Homo sapiens: one gene and its partners. The protein of the gene in region 1 interacts with the protein of each later gene in a pairwise test. Each region holds a gene or a part of one and is shown in the gene's direction. Other genes may lie near its edges.

Region 1 (4,307 bases):
GGTGTTGTTTGGGTTTTTTTCTTGTTGATCATTTTTATTTTTTTGTTTGTTTGGGTGTTAATTACATATAAAAAAGATCCTCACCTGTCCCTCTAACAAAATAGAATTTAAAAGAAATCTTTGGCTTTCTCTAAGGTTACCAGTGCTCTTATAATTTCTCAAGTCAGAGAGTTGTTATAAGGTAGTTATTTTCTTGTTTATTTCCTCTCATGTTTCAGGAAGGGTTCTAGGTGGCTTTCAAGAATTGGTGAAATAAACTAGCCTGTGTTAAAAGAGGGATTAAATAATCAAAAAGACAGCAAGGGTGGGGGCAAAGTGAACAACGAAATCAGAACAGTGATCCAGGTGGCTGATCGCAAGCCCTCTAAAGGCAGAGATAATAAAGAGCTAGAACTTCTTTTTCATCCCTTTGTCTCCCAAGTGTCTTTCCCTGGTAGCTGCAGAGGTCAAAGGTCCCAAACACAGTGAAGAGCTGGACTTTCTAAAATCCAGTTGCTGTCAAAACCTCTCAGAAAAGCCAACCAGCAAGGCACTCATCTTTGCTGCCCCAAGGGACCAGGTTCAGGGAGCTGAGTCACAGAGGAGCATGCTTGGAAGCTGGCCAGCTCCACAGCAGAGCAGTTTGCCAGGCCACGTGCCACCTGCTTCCTGTGGCTCACGGCCTTCTGGCTGGCAAGCCCCTGTGGGCCAGGAAGCTCAGACCTAACCTGCTGTGGCAGGAGGTAGCTCTGAAGTGATTTGTCAGGAACTGTCCTCAGGTGAAGGGAGAAATGAGACAAGGCACTTTTGCTCCCAGAACCTGGCCCTTAGGGGACTGTGAATTGTGATCAGAAAATGGGAGAGAGGACATTTCTTTAACCTTGAGATCTCCCATCTGAGTTTCAGGAGCAGAACCTGAATCAACCAAGAAGGGTTAGCAGAATTGGGAAACTGAATGATAGACATAGTCAAAGAGTCTGGCTGTTGGGAAATCTGGTTTTCTGTAAGGCAGTGGGGCACTGTTCTACATGGGCAAGGATCTGCCTGCCTCACATTATCCCCCAGGGCTGTCAACCAGACCCCAGGCATCCTCTTTAGTTGATCTGGAGGAGATGCTCCTATAGGCAAAGGGGACACCAAAGAGAGCATTCGGCCTGACTCGGCTGTGCCACTGCCACTGTGCTACTTACCTGAAATCTTCCCAACCTCTCTGATGCCATTCGGCACTTCTAGTCAAAAGGATTTAGGCTAACATTTGGTATGAGGACATCGGAGAAGCTGATATTCACAAAACCAGCATAGGAAATCACTACCTTTTAAGGAAGAGATTCCTGTTACAGGCCACAAGCAGATCCCTAAGAGACTTCTCACAGGTTCCACTCCTGACTTAGAGAAGTGTCTGGGCTGTCTTTGCTTACCCAAGCCAGGCAGTGCAGCTGTGTATACTTCATGCTTGAGAATCCCAGCTGCAGCTTTGATAAAGTGGGAGTCCTGAGAAGACCCTTAGCCGTTTGAGTTATTAAACAGAAATCATCCCCACCAACCCTGAGAGCCTCTTTGGCCTCCCTTTTTTATTGGCTGGCCCTCACAAGATAAAGTGTTGCTAAAACTGCCCATCTTTCCATTATGCCTCTCAGGTGGAGGAAGCCTTGACTATCAAAAACACAGATATCGCCAAGGAGCTCTGCCTTCCTCCCGTGAAACTGCACTGCTCCAGTAAGTCTCTGCTCTCCATACCAGTCAGCTGGGACATTTGGCAGTAATTTCAACTTGGTTTGCAACAGTCCTTTTAGATCATGGAGCCCACGTTTGTAACCCTCAGAATTAGAGCTCATGAGTCTGTCCTTATAACCTGCAGAGGGTTAGAGCCCCCATGGTCTCACATTCATCCCTAAGAGAATCATGCCAGAAGGAGGTATGCACCAGCCATCATACTGAGCACTTCATGGGCGTAATTTCTAAACCTCACAAATATCCTTGAGTGCACAGTAGATGTCATTACTTCCCTCTTATGGATGAGGAAGCTAAGGCTTGGGTTGAGACGCCCACATCACATGGCTAATAAGTGGAAGAGCCAGAATTTAAGCTCCAATCTTTGATTTCAGAATCTGTGCTGTTTCCAGCAGAGGAGAAAACTCAGCTTTCGCCATAATCCTGTTTCCTGTGTATTTCTTCACTTCCTGTCTGGATGGTATTCCTGTCGGGGTCTGCATCTGTATATATGGAACAACTAAGCCCAGTTGTACAATGTCCCCCTCCCTGCTATCCTAAAAAAAAGCCCAGATGCCTTAAGACTTGTACTTGGCTTTCCAGTTTGGTCTCTGTATTAAATCTAATGCTTTTTCCATCATTTCTTAACCTTCTCAGGGAAAGAAGGAATGAGAAACATTAGCCTTAATGCATCGATGGAGGTTTACTAACCAAATTAGTTAAAAATCAGCAGAGAGTCAGGCCTCTTGCCAAGGTAATACTCACAGCAGAAGAGCCAGGTGCCGGGGCAGACACACTAACTCATTCTTCAGGAAGCCTGGTCAGACCTAAGTTCTTTCCACTTGATCTGGAATTTTAAGTACCCATAAAGAAAGGTCATCACTTGTAAACATTTTCACATGGTTTCAGGAAATCCCCAGCCCTTTTATTAGGCCTTTTTAGGTACTGAAACCTTTAGCTGATGTTCTCTGTTATTTGCTTGCTTTCTGCTGTCATTCCAGCTCTCTCAGTTTTTATTTTCCCCATAGCCTCACTTTGAATATTGACTCCTAAATAAAAGTGGTCAAACTCTCGATCACTAGAGGGTGATGTGGCAAATGCCATCCCATCAACAGATTGACATGATCTTTTTTCCAAAGGGCATGTCAACTTTTTTATCATGACAAGATTTTGTCCAAAGCTAGACTTTGATGGGAGCAGGCAAGAAGTAACATTTCCTGTGTCCCTACTATGTGTCAGACATCTTCTGTAAGTCCCCACACTATCCTGGCAAGAAAAGCATGATTATCCCAGTTCTATAGAAGAGAAAGTAGGGTCAAAGAGGCTAAGGAACTAGCCTGGGATCACAGATTTTTAACCCTAGTCTGTCTCCAGGATCACCCGCAGGAGTAACTCAGCTCAGGAAGCAGCTGCTGACGTGCCCAGCAACTCCTCACCCCAGCTTTCTGGCTTGGTTACTCCATTAGTCCCCACCAGCACCACTTCCTCCCAGCTCTTAAAGATTCTATTCCCAAGTCCATTTCTTTCACATCTAGAAACTTAGGCTTCTTTCCTTCCGTTACTTCCAGTGCTGGCTGAAGATGCAATCAAGGCCGCCCTGGCTGATTACAAATTGAAACAAGAACCCAAAAAAGGAGAGGCAGAGAAGAAATGAGCCCTCCCTCGGCGAAGCCTCCAGCAGGCCACACCAGCTGTTTCCCACCTGCTGTGCAGTCACCTTAGATGTTCAGAAGCCGCTTCCTCTCCACTGAAGAGCTATGAGATACGCACAATACTTGCTGTTCACGTTATGACTCTCATGCAAGCAAAATACACAGTTTCATTGTTCTGAATCCTGTGGTTTCTTTCAGCCCACTTTTATCGCCTTAACCTAGTTAATGTATATTTTGAATTGTGTGTATGACCTCAGAACTGAAATTGATAATGAAGTTGCAAGTTTTGATAGCCCGTGAAGTGCATAAGTATCTAATTTTACCTGAATTGATTTGGGGGGAAATTACCAGTAGAATGCCTTGGTCTGAATATTTGATAGAACCAATTGTTGTACATAAAACAGATTGCGCATATATATATATGTATAAAAAATAATAAAATAATGGAAGATGATGGTGTTCTCTAGTAAGCCTTGTCTCTTGGGCCCATCATTCACCCTGAAGTGGTGCCCAAAGCCCCTTGGGGTTCCCAGAGGTTGGACCGCAGTGACATACACAGCTCTCCAAGCAAACAAAGACAAATATACGTAATATTTTTTGGAACAAGGATGAAAGGAGATGATTATCGCTTGTCATTGTTCTTTGTGTGATAGTAGTTGAAAGCTCAAAGTAAGTCTTGAAGATTCTTTCTGTAATTTCACTGGTTGCTCAAATCTAAAAAGCATTAGCTTGGCACCCTAAAGCGGTAGACCAGATACATGAAGAGCACCTCGGGAATGAGTTTAAAATGCGGATTTCTAGGCCCAAGTTTCTGACTTCTGTCTGGGCAGGTAATTCCAGAGCCCCTGACTTTTAAGAACCTCTTGGGTTTTTTGTGGTCGTAGATGAGCCAAACTTTAGGGAAGAAACTTCTGAATGCTGTGTTCTGCATAGATGTAGTATCTTAAGTGGTTCATTCTGAACTAT
Region 2 (7,034 bases), on another chromosome or scaffold:
ACTGATGTTTACTGTTGTCTGAGGCAGGAGGAAGCTGGCGGAGAGCCCCGGGTCTGTGGGGTGCTTTTGAAAGAGTCCAGTTTCCCCTCGGGTGATTGGGAGCCTGTCACCGTGGGACCTGGAGCACCAACTTGCAGATATTTTCTCTGGGCTGTTCCGCTTCTTTAGGAAGGCCCCTTTGCTGGCCGTGGGGGAGTTAGCTCTCCTGTGCGGGACCGACTTGGCAGGTGCGGGTTTGGCCTGCCCGCAGGGCTCTGCGAGGCTTGGAGCCCCACGCCTGTGCCCCCGGTGCTTTCCCTCTGCCCTGATCGGGTCCTCTGCATCTGTCAGGAGTGTGTTCTTTCTTGTGGGTTGATAACACCCTATTAAAGATGATGTTAATGGAGTGAGAGGAGGTCACCCGTACGGCCAGTCACTCCCCTTGAGCAGGAATTTGCAAGCCTGTTCTATTCACTCCACCTTCCTGCTTCCTTGTGGCCTTGGTAATTGCCCACAGTCAACGGGGTGAGGTGCCAAGCCGCCGTTCCACAGCCGCCTCTGAATTGCAGCGTGGGCTGGTGGCTCTGGCCCTGTGGCCTTGGAGGGCTGCCAGCGTACCTGGGCAAGGCCCGGCAGACCCGTGTGGTAGCAAAGACCCTGACTTTGGCTCCTCGCTGGGTCAGTGTGCCAAGCGGGCCGTCTGCCCTGCTGGGGTCCAGGAGGGCCTGCAGTGAAGCAGTGGTGAGCGTACTGGGAGCATGATCTTTCTGCATGGTGGCTGACTGTCACTGGGAGGTTGTGTGTAGTGCGGTGGGCTCTGTCTGCCAGAGCCTTGCCAGCCGAGCGTCCAGGGGCCAGCTGTGTCCATCAGCATCACTTGGGTATTTGTGAGAAACGCACACTTTCAGGCCCTACCCAGGTTCTCGTGCAGAATCAGACTGCAGCTTGGTCAGCTTTTAATTTTCAGATAGTTTTTGACTTTACAGAAAAGATGCAAAAAATATTTCACTGAGCTTCCCTGTTGTCTTCATCTGCTTCCCCTGATGTTGACGTCTTATGTAACCAGGCATCCATATAAACGCCAGAAAGTTCACAGCATTATTGCGTAAATGACAGACCTTATTCGAACTTCGGTTTTGCACCAGTGTCCTCTTGCTGTTTCGGGATCCCCTCCGGGACCCCACACTGGTGCGTGTGGCCGCCCTGTCTCCTTAATGTCCTTCTGTCTGTGATATTTACATAGTCACAAAGTATCTCCCCCAAGATACACGTCACAAAGGGAAAAATAAAACTGTAGCCTCTCGGTGGAAAAACCCAGCAGATACTGTGTGAAGCAAGTGATCGGGGTAACACCATCAGTCATAAGACGTTGACACCAAGGACCCAGTGAGACACATCACTTCTCTGGCAGTGTTGCCAGAAATGCAGTCTCATCATGAGAAAATGCTGCACCCAAACTGAGGGATGCTCACCACAGTCCTGGCCAGTGCGTCTCAAGTGTCCAGGTCTTGAAAGACAGGGAGGCTCAGAATTTCCTGCAGGCAGGTGGCCAGGTGATGTGTGTGCACCCTGGTCCACACGGAAGGCCTTCCCACAACCTTGAGGGAGGTGAGGGAGTAGGGGTTTGGGGGCTCCAGGCACAGGTGCTGGGCAGTGGGCCTCAGTGGTCTTGCAGCTCCCCCGTCAGGATTGTTAGCCTTTGGGTTCCTCGTCTGCAGTGATACTGTACAAATCCCAAAAACTCCAGTTACACGATTAAGTGATTGACATGACATGGAGTCGCAAGGCTGACTTGAAAATGACTGTAACTCACAGCACCAGTTTAGCCACTGCAATCTAGAGAAACTAAACATTTCCTCATTTTGAAGGAAAGACTTCTTGGGGAAAGTCAATTTGAGGGTTTGAATGAGAATGAGATGAAAGCTTTAGAAGGTCCTCCCTGTGCCTGAGGTAGATAAACATCTGTATTTTCTCTTCACACGGGTGACGGTGGTGAAAGCATGACATCATCTGACTTGGTCAGCAGAAGTGCTCTGAACCATCCGGAACTTTGGGGGCCTGGGGGCCGTGGGGAGGAGTTTCAGGAAGTTGAAAACAGTATTGGGTGGAATCACACACTTGCAATTTGCTCTGAAAAAGCTACACTTGTTTTGTTCTCAGCTGCACCTGGGGCCCTTCAGCCCCTGCAGGAGAAGAATGGGGCGAGTGATTGGTACGTGGCCTTCCCAGCCTGCAGAGCCGCCTGCTTTGGTTGTAATCATAGGCAAGCTCAGCCTGCTTTGGTTGTAGTCGTAGACAAGCTCAGGTTTCCGCCTCTGCACGTCCCGGTGGGCTCGCCTGGGACTCCCTTTGTCTGTTGTACAAGACTCCACTCTGGCCCCCCCTTTGGAAGAGACGATGTCTCCATCCTCAGGAAGTAGAGAAACACTCTCCGCCACCCTCCATCCTGACCCCCGTGCAGAGGATGAAGTGCTGTCCCAGAAGCCCCCTCTCAGGGGTGCCGTAAGTCTCAGAGAGAGGAGCACCCCGGGGCCTCCGTGGCAGAATCCTGTGAGTGTCTTTGGTTAAAATGTGCAGGAAGTGTTAACTCCTAAGCTGCCAGCAGATGGTGTGCCGAGATACTGTGAAGTCACATGAACTTGATTCCTGTTGGAAAGAACCACTCTGCAATCCTTCGCGTCTACACTTCGTCAAGAACCGTCCAATTTGATTAAACATTCTGGATCGTCAGCGTTCACGGTGGAGCAGACTCCACGACTCGCTGCTCCCATGGGAGGTGTCTCTCTGGGGAAGGGGTCAGTGGTGGTGGAGGATGGCGCGGTGCTCCATTCGGAACCCACAGGTCGCCAGCTTACAGCGTGGGAGCTGTGGAAGGACACATGGAGCAGAGGCGGCTGAGGAGGTGAAAGGCTGAGAGGAGGCTGCAGTGAAACACCTGAGGAAGGCTGGGCAGAATGGATCGGGGGTGTGTATTGGCTGCAGTCACCTCCCCTCTGCTCGTCTGTGTCCACATTCTGTCGTGGTTGAGACCGGATCCTGTGTGGACCGGGTGGGCTGGTGTGGAGTCCTGTCAGGAGACCTGGGGCGGTTTTGAGGCAAGCTCACGGAGGCCTGCCGCAGGGCCCTGCGCTGACAAACCTTTCGCTAGTGACCAGTTACCTTCTGTGTCTGAGAGAAGGCCGTTGTGGCCTGTAGTGATTTTCCTTTTCCCTTGAGATGAAAAGTCATCAAATATCTGGAAGCAAAGCTTAATCTTTCTGAAAGTAGAAACGCGTTTGGATGGAGCCGGGAGGGAGAACTGGGTGCGCGCTTGGCATTTCCTTGCCGGTGTGAATGCGCTTCCCGTAAATATGGCAGAACGCCTTCACCTTTCACCAGATGACGCGGGGGGAATTGGGCCACGGTCCCTGCTGTCATCATGGCATGCTGCAAGCTCTGTGGGCGCTGGTGGCCAGGATGCGGACAACCCCTGCCGCTACGTGTCCTCAAGTGAGCTCAGCTCTTGTGTCGGTGGGAGCTGGCGGTGGGTCCCTGAGCAGAGTGCTGCCGCTGCCAGTCTGCGTTTTCTGCCGAAATGCGTCCCTGAGATTGAGAAAGTTCACACCCTAAGTGTTTTTAGAAGGCTGGGTGCCCTGTTTCCCAGCCAACAGTTGTGACTGTCAGTGGGCAAACACAGTTTGCAATAATTGGCCTGTTGTCTTACAATTTCTGGCTCTCCTCTTTGTGGTGTAGGTCATGTTAGGTGGTGGTCCTTGGTCGTTTGTGCCACGTTCCCTCATGTTCTTGAACTCTGAGTCCCTAGAAACTGACATTGGTCTTATTTTGAGTGCATTATTTTTCAAACTTTGGGTCTGAACCCACATCAATTGAGTGGGCCATGGCCAGTGTTAAGAATACTGGATAAAATGGAGCATGCCTTGGATAAAAGGAGCATGGTTCGGAGTGGCTAACGGGTAGGTATCGACTCAGGAAACTTGCAGTGATGAGTGTATGAACTTACCATCGTAGGCCCCAGTCGAGAGCGTGGAAACCACTCTTCTGTGATGTGTGTCTACTAGCGGGTGGTTATGCACAGCATTTGACTGAATTTGGGTAACTCTGGATGTAGTGTATAAAGTACTTTTTAAAAGGCCATCCACTGGGCCAGGCATGGTGGCCCAAAGCTCCCAGCGCTTTGGGAAGCGGAAACTGGAGGATCACTCGAGCCCGGGAATTGGAGGCTGCAGGGCTGCAGTGAGCCATGATTGCACCACTGCACTCCAGCCTGGGCGGCAGAGTGAGACCCTGTCTCAAGAAAAAACAAGCAAAAACTATTCCCGTTAAGCCGCTTGCTTAGGGGTGACTGTGATTGAACATGTGGCTTCTCATCCAAGTTGATTTTAATCTCTATGGAGATCAGACTAATAACCTCACAGTAGAAAATCCACCAGTGAGCTCAGCGGCACAAACTCACAGCCCAGCAGTGTTTGCAGAGGGGAAGGCCCAGAATGCGTGGAGGCTTCGGGATCCATCCTTTGCAGACATAGAGAATTCTCATGGGGGAGGGAGGACCTTGCGGCGCCTTGGCAGTGAGGGGAGCAACCTCAGCATGATGTTGGCACGTACACTGGGGACTGGGTGGTGACACCGTGCATGCCCACAGGGGTGGAGATCTTTGTGGAGTTCACTGATGGATCCCAGAGGCCCAGGACGGGATGGCACGCTTTTCTGTGAGGGTCAGAGTGTAAGTGTTTCTGGCCTTGTGGGGCGTGGGATGTCTCGTGCCACTGTGAAGCCGCTCGACTCTGCTGTTGGGCTGAGAAGCAGGCACCTTGTTTGTGGACGCTGACATTTGAGTTTTATGTAATTTTCTCATCATGAAATATTGTTCTTTTGTTATTTTTCTGTTTTAAAATGTAAAACCCATTCCTGGCTCACAGGCTGCATAGAAGCAGGTGGAGAGCTGGGCTGGGTTGTGGGCCCTCACGTGCCACCCCCTGACCTAGAGTGTGTTTGCCCTGGGAAGGAATAAGACGAGGTTGTGTAGAGAGGCAGTGGCTGGATGGGGAGAGGCCTGGGCCCTGCACAGAGGAGCTGAGGTGTGAGGCTGCTTGCGAGGGAGGCGGCTGACCAGGCTTGGTACTAGCAGGCTCTCCGGGGAGGAGGCCCCCTGGAGGAACAGCGCTGGCGTCAGCCACAGAAGGGCTTAGCGGCCATGGTCTTCCTGCTGCAGCCCGTGTGGTTTTGGGAGGGACACATGGAGCATTGGAGGACAAAGAGACGGCCAGATCGGAGTGTGTGTGGCAGAGGGGCGATGCCACCCTTCGGAGCGATGGGTGCCAGGGTACTCGGTGAGAGCCCAGGTCCCGGGTGAGGGGGTGGGCTGAGGGGGAGTCAGAGAGGGAGGAGCCTCGGGATGCGGAAGGGCGAGAGCAGGGCGATGAGGGTGGGGCCGCAGGGAGGTGGCCGGGACTCCTGGTAGTATTCTTGGGGAGAAAGATAACAGGGAAGTGAGGAGGGTTCAGCTGTGGAAGTGCTGGGATGGCTGATCCGAGTGACCATGGCCTAGACGGGGTTTAAACCCTGGACTGAAGAAAGTGCCGGTGAGAGGTCAAGGCAGGAGATGGAGACCTGGGGGTGACAGGTGTCCCCGGCACCTCCTACCCCCACCCTGGGAGACAGTCCCAAGGGGCACCTTCACTGGGGGCTGGCCCTCATGCACACCAGCCAAACCTCCTGCCCACCTTCTGGGGGCTTCTGGAGCAGAGCAGAGGCCCCGCGGACCGTGAGGATGGCCACAGGGAGGGGAGATGCGAAACACTGGCCGTGGCAGGTGCCCACGCAGTCAGGAGCTTGCTTGTGGGGCTCTTGTCTGACACCTGGGAGATGAATTTCAGTCTGATGGTGGATCTGGACCCAGATGGCTTGCTTGGGATTCAGCAGCTCTTGGGAAGAGCCACACTTGAGGATGGGCTTGGGTGAGGGTTTGGAACGTGCTTAAAGAGGTTGGCAGGCAAGGATTTGGTGGTAGCAGGTGGGGCACATCGTGTATTGGCAGGGTTTTGTTATTTTTATCCTAAAGACATACTTATTTGCAAACCTTCTATTTTGGAACATTTTGAGATGTATACATATGTGGCAGAGATAGCATAGGGAGTGCCCTTGTGCCTGGTACCCAGTTTCTCCCGTTGCTAACAAGACGCATGACAGCAGTTCATGGCACAGTGTTGGGTGTGCCCCGGCCAACTCAGCAGATGAGCTGTTTCACAAAATCAGTGATTCTGCTCTGATAAAATGGCAAGTCCACGGAAAGCACTTTCATTGTATTTTGAAGTTGGGTGGTTGTTGAGGGATTATTTGAGTTGTAGTTGAACTAGCTGCTCTTTTCATGGAACACTATAAAAAAATAATTTACAGATTACTGACATCTCTTACTAAATGAGTGAAGTTAGCCTCTCACCTCAAAGAAGTCAGCTAACAGTGTTTGTTGCCAGTGATAAAGTTTGAGCTGTCAAGTGAAGTTGGAGTTTTGGAAAGTTTGTCTTTGCCACCGTGAGCCCGAGAGCTCCCAATAAATCAGATGCCAGTGCTAATGCTGATGAACCGTATGCTTTTGATATTATAGACTGAACAACATTTGCAAGAGCTGCCTAACTCGGTGAAGCAACATTTTCCAGATGGTCGATGCGGGATCACGCCTGGGTAAAAGATCCATTTAGAGTACAAGTCAAGCCAATGGATCTTAAAGCCATAAAGTGCAGAAGCTCATGGATACAGTTCACATTCCATATTGCAAACAGCCTTTAAGGAAAAATAAAACACACTTGTTGCGTGTTGGTGTGGTGTCAAAGAGGAATCTCCATAATTATCTGAAGAGCCTATTAAGATACTTTTCCCTTGTCTAACTGCATCTCCTTGTAAGGCTGCATTTTATTTTATTTTTTCGTACTTTTTGTAGAGACAGGGTTTTGCTGTGTTGCCCGGGTTGGTCTCGAACTCCTGGACTCACAGAATCTGCACCCCCCCGGGCCTCCCAAAGTGCTGGGATTACGGGCGTGAGCCACTTCCCCTGGTGA
Region 3 (7,034 bases), on another chromosome or scaffold:
GGAGACTGTATGTAAAAAATATTTGCATTGTGGTACAAATCTTTTATGATTGCTGAAAATTATTCTTAGCAATTGATGGTAGAGCTCTGATGTGAAATCATGTTTAGGAAAGCATTCCTTGCAGTATTACAGTTTTCTGAAACACAGCACTATGGGTACAAATGTCATAAAAAGCTCCAAGAAAACATTTCAAAAGTGTTTTTGAATGTATTTCTTTACCTAAACCTAAATTTTTATACTCATGGCCATTGCTTCTTTTATTAAAATACAGTTAATAGCATCAATCACTAGATTGCTTAAAAATGCTTTTCTTATTGTGCATTAAGTTATTTCTACCCTTTTGAGGGTTCTATTATATAAGATACTTTTTTGTGTGCTTTACGTAATGAATTGTGCAGTATTTCATGGAAGCATCTCCTTTGAATTGTAGGACATTTTATAAATGTAGAAATTAAAGTCTGTGCTTATAACTCTTTCTGCACATTTAAAAAATAGAGACTTTTAATTATTTGCTTTTTTTCATCATCTGTCAATTAAGTGATTTTCAGTTATACCAACTGGAATTGAAATGCGAATGTTAATACCTGAAAGGTTTTACAGAAAATAAGTGAGTAAATCTTGCTTTTTGAAATGATCTTTGCATTTTATATTTTAAATATCCTTCTGAAATTGCTGAACCATAAAGTCCCATATTGATGTCAGTATATGCAAAGAAACTACTTTTCAACATTAACTTTTAATCCATTTTCATTTACTATCTAACTGACATTAAAGAGGATCTTACTGCAAAAAGAAAAAGGATGAAAATGGATAAAACTTGCAGCAAAACAAAGAACAAAAGTAAACATGCTTTGAGAAAAAAGCAACTTAAAAGGTATGACTGTTGGCTTTTTTGCATAATGATATTTATATCATTTCTTTGTATTAGTTGGTGCAAATAATTTCAAAAACTATCCTGTACATATTGGCGTCTCTAGTGAACAACATATTTTACTTGATTGTTCTCTAAGTAGGTAAGTTTCTTTAGTTTTATAACCTCAGTTTAACAGAATTAAGAGATATTACCTAGAAGCCAATGAAGATGACCTCTTTTTGCCTTCCAGATAAAAATAGCCTTCTTGTAAAATTAATGTTTATCCATTTCTAGAAATATGGTAGCTGCATATAAGATAAATGTTCTCAATGTTTAGTCTGTAGATCCTTAACGATACTCAATTATGTAGAAAGGGATAACCTTATGTTGTAAATAAGTTATCTATTTTAGTTAAATTGTTTTCACTATTTCTTTTACAAAATCATTGGTGTGCCAAAGTGGAGAAATAGTTAAGTGAAGTTTTTCTTTTGGGAAATCTTATGGGATGAATGGCTATGATATTCTTGAACCTACTTATGAGAACCCATATGTTATTCAGTAAGAGGAAATGGAAAGTAAACTGCTCTTAGAGAAAATGTTTCTGGGAAAGTTATAGTGCAGTAAACCCTCCTTTGTCTTCAGCAGGTAAAGAATGTAAGATAGCTGCTCTAGTAGTCAGGAAGAAAAGAATCCTTTCAAAATGAGAGTAACTCATTTCACTTTTTTCCAAAAAGAAGATTTCAGCTGCTATTACTCCCTTGCTACTTTATAGTATAAATTATGTCAAGTCAGTTTGGGTTTGAATAGGATTAATTTTTCATCTCTCTATGACGTATGACCGTGTTACTTATTATGTGTTACAGGCAGAAACGTGATTATATACATTCTCTGAAGTTGCTAAATGTCCTTGAAGAATACATCACAGACGAGCAGAAAGAGGAAGAAGAAGAAGAGGGAGAAGAGGAAGAACTAATTGTTGGTATCATGCTTAGCTTTATGTATAACCTGTTATGTCAGTGTCTCAGGTAGTAATAGTTCATGCAGAAATCCAGCAAAGAAGGAAGAGCGCATGAGCCCAGAGAGGGGGGCCCGTTAGTGGACTAATGGACTAGGGGAATATAATTGCCACGCAGCATTAGGGGTCCAACTGAAGTCAGCATCATAACGATGAAGAAGTTAAAGTAAGCCCAGTTGGCATATTTGTGCAAGCACAGCTGTAGGGTTGGAATTTCCTGGGTCGGGGTGTAGCCGAGCAGATTGATAGAGGGAGAGTTGGGCAGGGAATAGATGCAGAGATGGGGATATGATGACTGGCTGTGGAATTTCAGCTGGGACTGAGTTATCTGAGCACACGGGAGTGGGCAATGGGCAGTAAAAAGTGCTCCATTCAGTGGGTGTCAGGTCCCAACAGACTCCTGAGCTGTAGTACTGAAGTGAGTGACCTACGATGGCAGGGAGGTAGTGGCTGTATGTTGGGAAGTTGGAGAAACAGCTGAGTGCAGTGGTCAAGGGCTGGGACTATGCATCCACACTGCTTGGGATTCTAGCTTGACCATTGCTAGCTCGGAAACCATGGAAAAATTATTTATCTCAGCTTGACCATTGCTAGCTCGGAAACCATGGGCAAATTATCTTATCTACGAAAGGAGACATGGTAAGAGTACCTACGTCAGAGTTGTTTGGAGGATCAAAGGGTTTCTGTGTAACAGGTTTATTTAAGTTTTTCAGGATGTGATCTGACCCATGGTTGCTCTTTATCATTGCTATTATTAATATTACGTAGGTGTTGAAGTCATTGGGAATGACAAAATCTAGGGGATGACTGTGTGAGTGAGTGCCACGTAGAGGAGAGGAGAACACTGTTGTTGGAGATTAGGTCAGGGTGCAGAAAGGCAATCATTATTGGGTGGTTCATCTATGTGCATATTGAAATGACCGAGATTTAATACATGCTTAAAATCTTAGAAAGAATTTTTCTTAGTTAATTTCTGTATAGATCTTACCTATCTGTGGTCAACAAATTATAGGAAGGTTCATCAAATACTCTTCATTGGAAATCAAGAATTAGGACATATGTGTTGAATGTGTAAAAGTAAGAAAATTCTTTACTTAATGACTGATAAAAAAGGTTAATACATCATTTTAGCATGTTATTGGTGAACACAATTGTTTAAAATTGGTCCTAAATGTTGTCTAAAAGAAAGTGTTCAGAGGTATTGATTTAAACAGTATTCCTTTAAAGCTAATGCAGAATTATGTTTTGTAAGTATTAAAATTTACCCAATTTTTATCACTATTTTGTTTTGGGATTCTAGAGAATATTTCAAGAACAACAGAAGAAGTGGCAACAATATAGAAGTGTTAGGAGAGAGAGGCTGAAAGAGATGAAGCTGCTACGTGACCAATTCGTAAAGGTCTGTTCTATTTGGTAACATAATACATTATAAAATACAACACGTGCATAATAGAAGACAGTCTGCTTGTTTCTGAATGTATGGAAAGACATTTGATTATACATTTCAAATTACTTAGCATTTTCACTTTGAATGTATTGTTCCAGATATAATATAATTGGTAAATGTATTTTTAGGATTCATGAATAGTTTGTGGGAGTTATTTAGAACAGGAAAAGGTAAATTGGAAATTTTACCTAGAAATACACATCTTATGTATAAAATTGACACTTTATTAACACATTAACCTATTTATGCCAGAGGTTGCAAATTTTTTTTGTGTGTGAAAAATCAGACCTTGGCCATGACCTTGAGCAGTAGGATATATATGATTCCCACAAGCTTAGCGTTCCAATAATGGAACACTAGGCATAAATGGGTTTTAATGAAGATTTTATTTTCAGTTTTCAGGACATCAATGACAAATCTATGGTGGAAGGCAAGAGGTCCATAAATCCTTTCTGGATGGCTTTTTTACTTGTGTTGTTTCAAGAGTTTTAGTTAAATAGGAAGTAGGCAAGCGTAACTACTGTGTGTCTTTTTTATTTCTTGCTGAAACACAGGAGTGTTTTATGGCATATTCACTTACAAAATTATTAGTAATGGTTCTACATGACAATTTGTAATCATAAGAGATGGTTCAGATGTATAACAGAATGGGAAAGCCAGCAGATTATTAACACGTTGTGAATTGCGAATTATCTGCTGTTGTACAGCACATTAGCAAATTATCATCAGACAATGACCTCTTCTTCATGTAGATGTAGATAATTTAGGAAGCAGTGGAATCTTTTTTGGGGAGATCTGGTATTCTTTTTAATAACCTTGGAAAAGACATGTTCATATGTCACTTCTCTACACTAACTGAGATGTGTTAAATAAACTGGGAAAAGAGTTTGAAAATAAAATTTTCAAGCAACTTGAGGATTATCTATACACAAACAGTTATTTAAATAGAAGTTACAAGTAGAGAACATGTTGCTATAATGTTCTCCAGATACCATTTATTAATTGGTATGAACATGAGACTAGTAGTTTTCCTGTCAGTATTAATGTTTCATGTTACCACTTAGGTTAGGAACTTTGCTATCATCTTGGACTCTTCTGAGTTCATTATCCTTCCCATGTAGTTATCACGAGGCAAGTTTTACCTCTGCAATGGTCCTTTAATTTCTTTCTTTAAATTCCCACTGCGGCTACCCTAGTCCAAGACCTCATTCTTCCTTACCTGTACTATTAAACTCTTTTCTGAGTTCTCTCTTCTCTTCTGAGCCATCCTTCATTGATTGGCAATATTATCTTTCTAAAACCCTTCCCTTCCTAAAATGCTTCCCAGCCCTTCCGTCTTCCCAGCCTGTCAGTGATGCCCCGTCTCAGTTCTTAGATATTCAGAGACTCTCCCCTTTACATGACCCCCTCTTAGGCTTGTTTTGCCGCCTTCTGTCTTTCCTCCCACTTCTCCAGGTTGACCGCCTTCCCTGAAGGAACTCACCGTTACTCCCATGCTTTGCTCATGCTCTTCCCTCACAATACTTTTAAAATCTTTTTTTGACTGATTGAAACCTTTCGCCAACTAAATCAACATCAGTCTCCATTTTTGGCTACATGCCCGAGTGAGTTGCCCTTCCATAGCAGTTACACAAGTTTTGTATTACTTGTTTTTTATTTGTGCATTTGCTCATGTCATAGAAATACGGAAGATTGTGTATTCATTTTTTACATCTTCCTCAGCATTAACCTACAACATTTTAGGGAGTAGGAACTGTTGAACTATTTGTTGAGTAAAGAGTATATATTTCAAACACAGTTACGTTTTCTCTAACTTGATGAGGTCATATCACCAACCATTTTATCCCTTCAATGGAAACCATGTTATGTAGGCTATTGCTGATAATACATGGGTCGCTACCTGCTGAAAAAAAATATAATATTTCATGATATAAGCCTGCCCGTCTTTTTCTGTCTTCGCTCCATCTTGACCTTAAGATGTTCTTCAACCCATTTTATTTAAGCAAAGTACATGACTGTTAGACCTGCTAAAATAATATGTCACTGAAATCTGGCATTAAAAAATTTAATTGGGTATTTGGAGCTCCATGTATTGATTATAGTTTTTTCTATTTGAAATGAATAACTGGCATCCTTTGAATATTAAAAGCTGTTTCCTTTTGACATTTAATTAACCCTGTTTAAAATGCGAGATATAAAGTGGTGGTTTGTCAGTGAACTAGACTTTTTCTTTTAGGCTCTTGAGGACTTTGAAGACCTTTGTGACAGAGTTTTTTCCGATGAAGACAGTGAACTTGATAACTAGACATGTTTTTAAATAAAATCATGTCAGAACTGTAAGTAGTGCATATTTAATATTAAAAACTCAGGATTGATGTAGCACTGGAATATTTTATTTGCAGAAATGTGTATTACAGTTACTTAAATTTTTTTTTGAAACAGCTTTTGGAAAAGTTGGCACTTACCCAGTTGTCTCTTCAACCTCTGTTATTCTGATGACTGAAGAAAGAACTTGAACCTATGTTATATGATACAAGCACAACTTGAGCTACAGTAAACTACATGACAGTGTTTTGATAATTGTTGTATAAATCGGTATAGCTCCTCTGTCACTCGTCTGTTAAATGCCAGACCTCGTTTCTATGATCTGTTGAATGAATCCTAGACACTTCTGTGAGAAAGCAGGGATTGCATAGTTATGTACACGGTCAATTAAATTTTAACATTAAAGATAATTTAGATTTCGATTTGGCCTCTGTGGATTTGTATCAGTTCCAAAAATGTAGAAAGCACAGGCATAGAAAAGTACATTTTTCTCTAATAAAAGAAGACAATATCTGCTGGGTGTGGTGGCTCACGCCTGTAATCCCAGCACTTTGGGAGGCCGAGGGGAGTGGATCACTTGAGGTCAGGAGTTTGAGACCAGCCTGGCCAACATGGTGAAACCCCATCTCTGCTAAAAATACCAAAATTACCCGGGCGTGGTGGCACGCACGTGTAGTTCCAGCTACTCAGGAAGCTGAGGCAGGAGGATCTCTTGAACCCGGGAGTTGGAGGTTGCAGTAAGCCAAGATTGTGCCACTGCACTCCAGCCTGGGCGACAGAGCAAGACTCTTTCTCAGAAAACAAGAAGAAGAAGACAAAAGCTATCTTATCTGTGCGTTCTTTTGTATTTACTCATTAGGATAAAGAGGCAATTCCAATGAAAGTAGGACTTCAAAAAATAGATATACTCTATGGCCATATCAAAATTATTAAAAGCACCTTACTGTCTGTGTTCTTAAAAAAAATTATACTGCTGTAAATGATTAAGGCAACTGAGCAAGATATATTAATATCAGTGCTGAGCCACTGGTTTGTGGGTATGTCATTTCCACAGACATCAAAATGCTATTTAGTTTGTTTTGGTCCATCATTCAATGATACCTCCCCTTAGAATTGAATGAAAGCATTTTGTTAACATTTATGTATGCTTACAATTATTTCACATCTGTGGCAAGGTAAATTTTGTAGAGTGCTTTGTTTATCCAGTTTAATATTCGTGGATTATGTGGAAGTTTATATGGACATCTAAAAACTTGAATGATGAATTCGCCTGCCTTTCCTTTTTTTAATGTGCAGTTTTCACATGTAACAACATATAACAAACATGTAAAAAGATTTTTTGCATGTAACATGTTAAAAAGATGTACATGTTTTTACATGTAAAACAATTTTAC
Region 4 (7,034 bases), on another chromosome or scaffold:
CACTGTGTGGCTCATCCAAGTCAGTGACCTTGCTGTAGCCTTGGGAATACCTGTTCTAACCCTCTCACTGGTGGCAGATGGGAAACTGGCCTCTGTGAGGATCTTGCTCAGGAGTCGCTTGTAGGCCTCGAAGACAGATTCCCAGGATCGACCTGGTCTTGCTTCTGCTCACAGTGCTGCCTCCTTCATGAGCCATTCGGCCTCCTGTGACCCAGGAGGCATTAGCAAGACCTCCCCCAGGCCTGGCCTCCTGGCCGTGTGTCTGCTCAGCCTCTCGCCACCTCCCTCTACCTACCTCAGGTGCAAGTTTGCTTAGAATGAACAGACATCATAAAATAGTATAATTGATTTTTTTTTTTTTTTGAGACAGAGTCTCACTGTGTTGCCCAGGCTGGAGTGCAGTGGCGTGATCTCAGCTCACTGCAACCTCTGCCTCCTGGATTCAAACGATTCTCATGCCTCAGCCTCCCGAGTAGCTGGTATTACAGGTGTGCGCCATCATGCCCAGCTAATTTTCGTATTTGTAGGAGAGAGAGGTTTTAGCTATGTTGGCCGGCCTGGTCTCGAACTCCTGGCCTCAAGCGATCCACCCACCTCAGCCTCCCAAAGTGCTAGGATTACAGGCATGAACCACCAGCCAATAAAATAATAGAACTGGCCGGGTGCGGTGGCTCACACCTGTAATCCCAGCACTTTGGGAGGCTGAGGTGGGCAGATCACCTGAGGTGAAAACTTCCAGACAAGCTTGGCCAACATGGTGAAACCCTGTCTCTACTAAAATACAAAAATTAGCCAGGCATGATGGCGGGTTCCTGTAATCCCAGCTACTTGGGAGGCTGAGACAGGAGAATCGCTTGAACCCGGGAGATGGTGGTTGCAGTAAGCCGAGATCGTGCCATTGCACTCCAGCCTGGGCAGTTGAGTGAGACTCCGTCTCAAAAATAATAATAATCATCATCATCATAGAATTGATTTTTTTAAATTCAATTTTGTTTTTATCAAAGTGCCATATGACTTGCCTCTACCAAGTCAAGAGCATTAAAAGCCCTGTATCAAATAATAGCAATCCACTGCCCTTCCCCTGGGCACCTCACCCGGCTTTCTCTGTCTCTTCATGCATGGGCTTCCATTTTTCTCAATAGTCTCACTCTGTCGCCCAGGCTGGAGTGCAGTGGTGCAAGCATGGGTCACTGCAGCCTTGATTTCCCCAGACTCAGATGATTCTCCCACTTGAGCCTCCAAGTAGCTGGGATTACAGGCACGTGCCACCAAACCTGGCTAATTTTTGTGTATTTTTTGTAGAGACGGTGTTTTGCCATGTTGCCCAGGCTTGTCTCAAACTCTTGGGTTCAAGTGATCCACCCGCCTCAGCCTCCCAAAGTGCTGGGATTACAGGCGTGAGCCACCGTGCTCAGCCTATCCTGTTGTTTCTTGATCTATCACCTGTAAATATCTATTGACTTTGCCTCGTCTGGTAGATGAGAATTTAGTTCTTCCCATGACCAGTCTGTTTCCTCTCATCCCACCTTTCCAACATAGTTATTTTTCTATTTTTGGCTAAATTAATATTAGTACAACGGAGATTTTGTTCGGGAAATCTTTTCCAGATGCCTCCTAGGCTCTGTTGTAGGCACTAGGGATAAAAGAATAAGAAAGCAAAGATCCTACTCTTGCGGAGCCCTCATTCTAGTCAAAACAACTCTATGTTTAACTTTCTGAGGAATCTATGTTTCTTTTCTTAATTCAGCCTGTTCTTGTGTTTTGAGAGGGTGGGGGTAATTTCCTGTTTTGTTTTTTTCATTTGCACTCTCCTTGTTTTCTCAGTATGTTTTCCACAATTTCCCATCTTTTTTTTTTTTTTTTTAAATTAAGTCTTGCTCTGTTGCCAGGCTGGAGTGCAATGGCGTGATCTTGGCTCACTGCAACCTCCAGCCCCCGGGTTCAAGTGATTCCCCTGCCTCAGCCTCCGAAGTAGCTGGGATTACAGGCACGTGCCACCACGCCTGGCTAATTCTTGTATTTTTAGTAGAGACGGGGTTTCACCATGTTGGTCAGGCTGGTCTCGAACTCCTGACTTCAAGTGATCCACCTGCCTCGACCTCCCAAAGTGCTGGGATTACAGGCGTGAGCCACCATGCCCGGCCCCATTTTCTTCAGTCTGTTTTCCGCCCTGTAGTCTCTCCCCCTTGTGCCCTCCCCCTGCCCCTGCCCCTTCTCTTTGGATTCCCCCATCTTGGGGGTCCCTTTCCTGGTTTACTCCCTGATCTCCCGTGGAGAATATCCTCCTGTAGCTTTCTGAGAAAGGGCACGTGGGATGTCAATTTTTTGAGACCTCGGGTCTGTCTTTTTTGGTCATTGTGGTTCCCATATTCCTTTCAGTTGACATTTTGGCTCATTCGATTCAAGAATGAACGTCAAGGTTGACAGTAATTCCTGTGTGGAAGTGTGATGGCCTTGTCACATTGTCCTTTGCTGTCACATGGCTATTGCCATTCTTATTGGTGATCCTTTATTTGTGATGTGTTTTATTTCTGATCTGTGAGAACTTTGAGGACTTTGTTTTTGTCCCTGGTGTTGGGAGGAGTCGTGATGGTAGCTGCAGGCACAGGCTTTTGTTTATTGTGCCAGATCCTCAGAGGGCGTCATCGGGAACACCATGTCCTTCTTGTCATGTATCTCGATGATGACATCCTGCTTTCTGTATTCTCTGTTCTGCTTTTTTCTATTTTTTTATTGTGGTAAAATTTACCATCTTAACTTTTTTTTTTTTTGAGACAGGATCTTGCTCTGTCGCCCAGGCTGGAGTGCAGGGGTGCGATCATGGCTCACTGCAGCCTCAACCTCCTGGGCTCAAGCGATCCTCCCACCTCAGACCCCCGAGTAGCTGGGACTACAGGCACGCGCCACCATGCCTGGCTCATTTTTGTATTTTTTTTGTAGAGACAGAGTTTTGCCATATTGCCCAGGCGATCTTCCCACCTCGGTTTCCCAAAATGCTGGGATTACAGGTGCGCACCACCGTGCCCAGCCCTTGGTCTATTTTTGAATTAGGTTGTTTGGTTTTTGTTGTTGAGTTTTAAGAATTCTCTACAAAGCACAATCGGCTAAGAGGAAAAAAAGAAAAAAGAGTTTTAGGAATTCTGCATATATTCTGGATATTAATCCCTTATCAAAAATGTGATTTGCAAATATTTTCTCCCATTCTGTGGGTTGCCTTTCTTTTCTTCTCTTCTCTGTTCTTTTTTTTTTTTTTTTTCGAGACAGTGTCTCACTCTGTTGCCCAAGCTGGAGTACAGTGACGGGATCTCAGCTCACTGCAGCCTCTGTTTCCCAGGCTCAAGCGATCCTCCCACCTCAGCCTCCCAAGTAGCTGGGACTACAGGCGTACACCACCATGCCCAGCTAATTTTCGTGTTTTTTGTAGAGACAAGGTTTTGCCACATTGCCCAGACTGGATGGTGTATTTTGATGCACCAGTTTTAAAATTTTTATGAAGTTCAATTTGTTTATTTTTTGTTACTTGGATCTTAGGTGTCACATCCAAGAAATTACTGTAAACTCCAATGTCGTGAAGGTTTTGGACTAGGCATTTTTCTGAGTTTTATAGTTTTAACTTTTACATTTAGGTCTTTGAACAATTTTGAGTTAATTATTATTATTATTATTATCTTCGAGACAGAGTCTCGTTCTGTTGCTCAGGCTGGAGTGCAGTGACATGATCTCGGCTTACTACAACCTCCACTTCCCAGGTTCAAGCGATTCTCCTGCCTCAGCCTTCTGAGTAGCTGGGACTGCAGGCGCCTGCCACCATGCCCAGCTAATTTTTGTATTTTTAGTAGAGATGGGGTTTCGCCATGTTGGCCAGGTTACTCTCGAATTCCTGACCTCAGGTGATCTGCCTGCCTTGGCCTCCCAGAGTGTTGGAATTACAGGTGTGAGCCACTGCGCCTGGCCTTGAGTTAATTTTTGTATGTGGTGTTAAGTAGTGTCAACTTCATTTTTCACATACCATTGTTGAAATGACTGTCCTTCCCCATTGAATGTTCTTGACACCCTTGTCAAAAATCATTTGATGCCGCCGGGCACGGTGGCTCACACCTGTAATCCCAGCACTTTGGGAGGCCAAAGCAGGTGGATCACCTGAGGTCGGGAGTTTGAGACCAGCCTGACCAACATGGAGAAACCCTGTCTCTACTAAAGATACGAAATTAGCCGGGCGTGGTAGCGCATGCCTGTAACCCCAGCTACTCGGGAGGCTGAGGCAGGAGAATTGCTTGAACCCGGGAGGCGGAGGTTGCGGTGAGCGAGATGGCGCTATTGCACTCCAGCCTGGGCAACAAGAGCGAAACGCCGACTCAAAAAAAAGAAATCATTTGACTATGTATTTGAGGCAGGAGAATTGCTGGAGCCCAGGAGTTCAGTGCCACAGTGAGCTGTGATCACGCCACTGCACTCCAGCCCGGGTGGTGAGACGCTTTCTCAAAAAACGAGAGCAGAGGGTAGAGTGGAAGACAGAGCCAGGCAGTGGTCAGGTGTCTTCCCAGGTTCCATCTTAGCCCTCCCTTTCTTCCCCCACCACTCTCCTTATGCACCCACAGGTATTTGACAACACCCCAGCAGCCTTGGACGGCACAGTGGCAGCTGGCGATGAGATCACCGGTGTCAATGGCAGGTCAATCAAAGGGAAAACTAAGGTGGAGGTGGCGAAGATGATTCAGGAGGTGAAGGTAAGGGCTGCTGCAGAGCAGGTGTCCAGAGGCAGCAACACATGTTTCTGAGACCTCCAGGCTGCCAGAGGTCCCAGCAGGCCTGGAAGGGGGTATCAGCCCTCACCGCCCCCTTCCTTGTCATGTGCAGGGTCAGGGTCACACTCCAGCCTCCCTCATCCATCCCTCATTCATTCAATAAATACTAATCGTGCTCCAGGACTTGTGCTGAACCTTGGCAAGAGAGTGGGCAGCAAGACCACAAGGTCCCCATGAGCTCCCAGGGAGCTGACAGACTTGGAACCACCCCTCAGGCAAGCCCATGTGTCCCCAGTCAGTGCCAGAGCTGAAGCTAAAAGTCCAAGGTGATCCTCCCTGGGTCAGTAGACACCCAATAATGTCAGCCGGGTCACGCTGGGCCTGTGAGGGCTAGGAGGGAAAGAAGAGTGCCCTTTCCCCATCCTGTAGGAACTTTCGGTCCCACACAGCCTCCTGGGCTCATAGACACCCAGAGACCCCCCTCCCAGGCCAGCTGATCTTCTGCTCTACAGACCAGAGTCACACACTGCCTGCCCCGCTTTCCCCCACCCCTGCCGCTCCAGGACTGGAATGGCAGGCGGCATCCCGGCCTCTCCTGAAGCGAGCATGCAGCCCCTTTGCCATTTCCTAGCGAAGTGGCTGCTAGCTAGTCTCAGGAAACCAATACTGTGAAAGAACTGATGTGCAGGCAGTGCACAGCCATGGGGTGATTTGAAAGTCTCGGGGGCAAGGGTCCCCACTGTGAGTTCAGCTTGGCCAAGGGTGGCAGCTACCTCCCTCAGCCCCACTTCCATCCTCCGGGTTCTGGCACTCCTGATAGTCCGCCTTCCTGCCTTAACCCAGGCCAGCCGCTGCTCCATCCTCTCTCCCCTTTATCCTCCTGTCCTGCTCCTGAGTAGTCCGTGCTTCTCTCCTTCCTTGCTGTAGGAAGAGTCCCATCCTGCACATTCTCCTATTCCAGCCCCTTTAGCCATAGGACAAATCAGGGCCTGGGGCTGGGGCTCAGAGCTCTGTTGTAAAAAAAGGAAGCAGCAAGGTTCATTGAGACCCCACAGCTGCCACTCCACGTGGTCTGGGTATCACTGCCTCAGGTATGACCTGTTAGGCAGAGGAGCTGATCATGGGAACAGGTGCAGGGGGTCTCGTTCTGGCCGAGTTGGGTTGTGTGTGCCCCATTTGGCAGCCCTTCCCCCCTCCGCATCTCCTCCCCATCTCCACTCGCCAGGTCCCTCCCTGTCCTCTCAGGCTTGGTCATACCAGCACCTCAGGTTGCCCATGAGGACAAGAGCTCTTTGTATTTGCACACAGCCATGACAGGGATGCAGCATTGGCCCAGCTCCCCTGTTTGGGTGCTGGGCAGGGATTACTCTCCCATCTTACAGGTGTCCACAGGCGGGGAGTGACCTGCTTGTGGTCACACAGCTGAACTGGAGCCCGGGCCCGACTCCCACTGCAGCCCGCTTGCCGTTGGCCTACAGCTGCTCCCTGTGGGGTGGCCCCTGAGCACGCCTGTGTTTCATTCTGCGGGAGCAGTTCACACCCCACCTCTGACTCTGATTGCATCTGCTCATTTTGGTTTCCCTTTGGGACTTGATTTTAAAATCCTGTTTTATATTTGGATGAATGTGGTCCCAAGTTCAAGGGCTTTTGGTTTGCAAGGATGAGAGTGAACACAGCGCCCTCCCGTGCTCAGGCAAGTCCTCTTGGGAGAAGCCTTTGTCTCCTGAGCAGTCGTTAGAAAGTGGTTTGTGTAATTCCCTGATTCGCATCAGCCTTGCGGGGCTGGGGCTGCCCCTGCCCCTCCCCTTGGTGCCCCAGCACCAGGCACAGAGCAAGTGCTCAGATGTGCTGTTCGATGAGTAGAGGGATTCCTGGGGATGGGGTGTTTTGGGGTGGAGGAGGGAATAATCAGTGTAGGGAAATGACACGGCAAAGGCTTGGAGTGTGGTTTGCGTGGGGAGGGAAGAAGGAGAGCCTGACCTGGCCGAAGCACAAGACATCAGAGACCGCCAGGCTGTGGGCCCGGTGCCGGCCCTGTCCCCACTGATTCCCCAGGGCTTGGATGTAGAGTAGGAAGGGAGGGGCCTGGGATCAGACAGGGTCACAAGGTGGGGCCATGTCACAGCGCTCAGCCTGGCCCTTACTGGGGCTTAGGATTCTTTTTTTTTTTTTTTTTTTTGAGACAGAATCTCATTCTGTCATCCAGGCTGGAGTGCAATGGTGTGATCTCAGCTCACTGCAACCTCCGCCTCCCAGGTTCAAGTGATTCTTTGCCTCAGCCTCCTGAGC

The links.
Region 2: the proteins of ISCU (region 1) and BANP interact in binary tests that used the Homo sapiens proteins (3 or more experiments, as listed by UniProt).
Region 3: the proteins of ISCU (region 1) and FAM9B interact in binary tests that used the Homo sapiens proteins (3 or more experiments, as listed by UniProt).
Region 4: the proteins of ISCU (region 1) and PICK1 interact in binary tests that used the Homo sapiens proteins (3 or more experiments, as listed by UniProt).

Annotation. Positions count from the first base shown.
Region 1 is NC_000012.12:108,565,574-108,569,880, forward strand, and holds the end of ISCU (iron-sulfur cluster assembly enzyme ISCU isoform 2 precursor), read left to right. Parts: intron 1-1,616; coding exon 1,617-1,695; intron 1,696-2,084; coding exon of another isoform or gene 2,085-2,131; exon of another isoform or gene 2,132-2,346; coding exon of another isoform or gene 2,347-2,399; exon of another isoform or gene 2,400-3,257; coding exon 3,258-3,343; 3' UTR 3,344-3,795; downstream 3,796-4,307.
Region 2 is NC_000016.10:87,954,433-87,961,466, forward strand, and holds part of BANP (protein BANP), read left to right. Parts: intron 1-5,438; exon of another isoform or gene 5,439-5,561; intron 5,562-7,034. UniProt on the Homo sapiens protein: Controls V(D)J recombination during T-cell development by repressing T-cell receptor (TCR) beta enhancer function. Binds to scaffold/matrix attachment region beta (S/MARbeta), an ATC-rich DNA sequence located upstream of the TCR beta enhancer.
Region 3 is NC_000023.11:9,024,101-9,031,134, reverse strand, and holds the end of FAM9B (protein FAM9B), read left to right. Parts: intron 1-538; coding exon of another isoform or gene 539-567; exon of another isoform or gene 568-774; coding exon 775-874; intron 875-1,716; coding exon 1,717-1,828; intron 1,829-3,168; coding exon 3,169-3,267; intron 3,268-5,551; coding exon 5,552-5,620; 3' UTR 5,621-5,651; intron 5,652-5,757; 3' UTR 5,758-6,903; downstream 6,904-7,034. UniProt on the Homo sapiens protein: May play a role in meiosis.
Region 4 is NC_000022.11:38,060,404-38,067,437, forward strand, and holds part of PICK1 (PRKCA-binding protein), read left to right. Parts: intron 1-4,598; coding exon 4,599-4,727; intron 4,728-7,034. UniProt on the Homo sapiens protein: Probable adapter protein that bind to and organize the subcellular localization of a variety of membrane proteins containing some PDZ recognition sequence.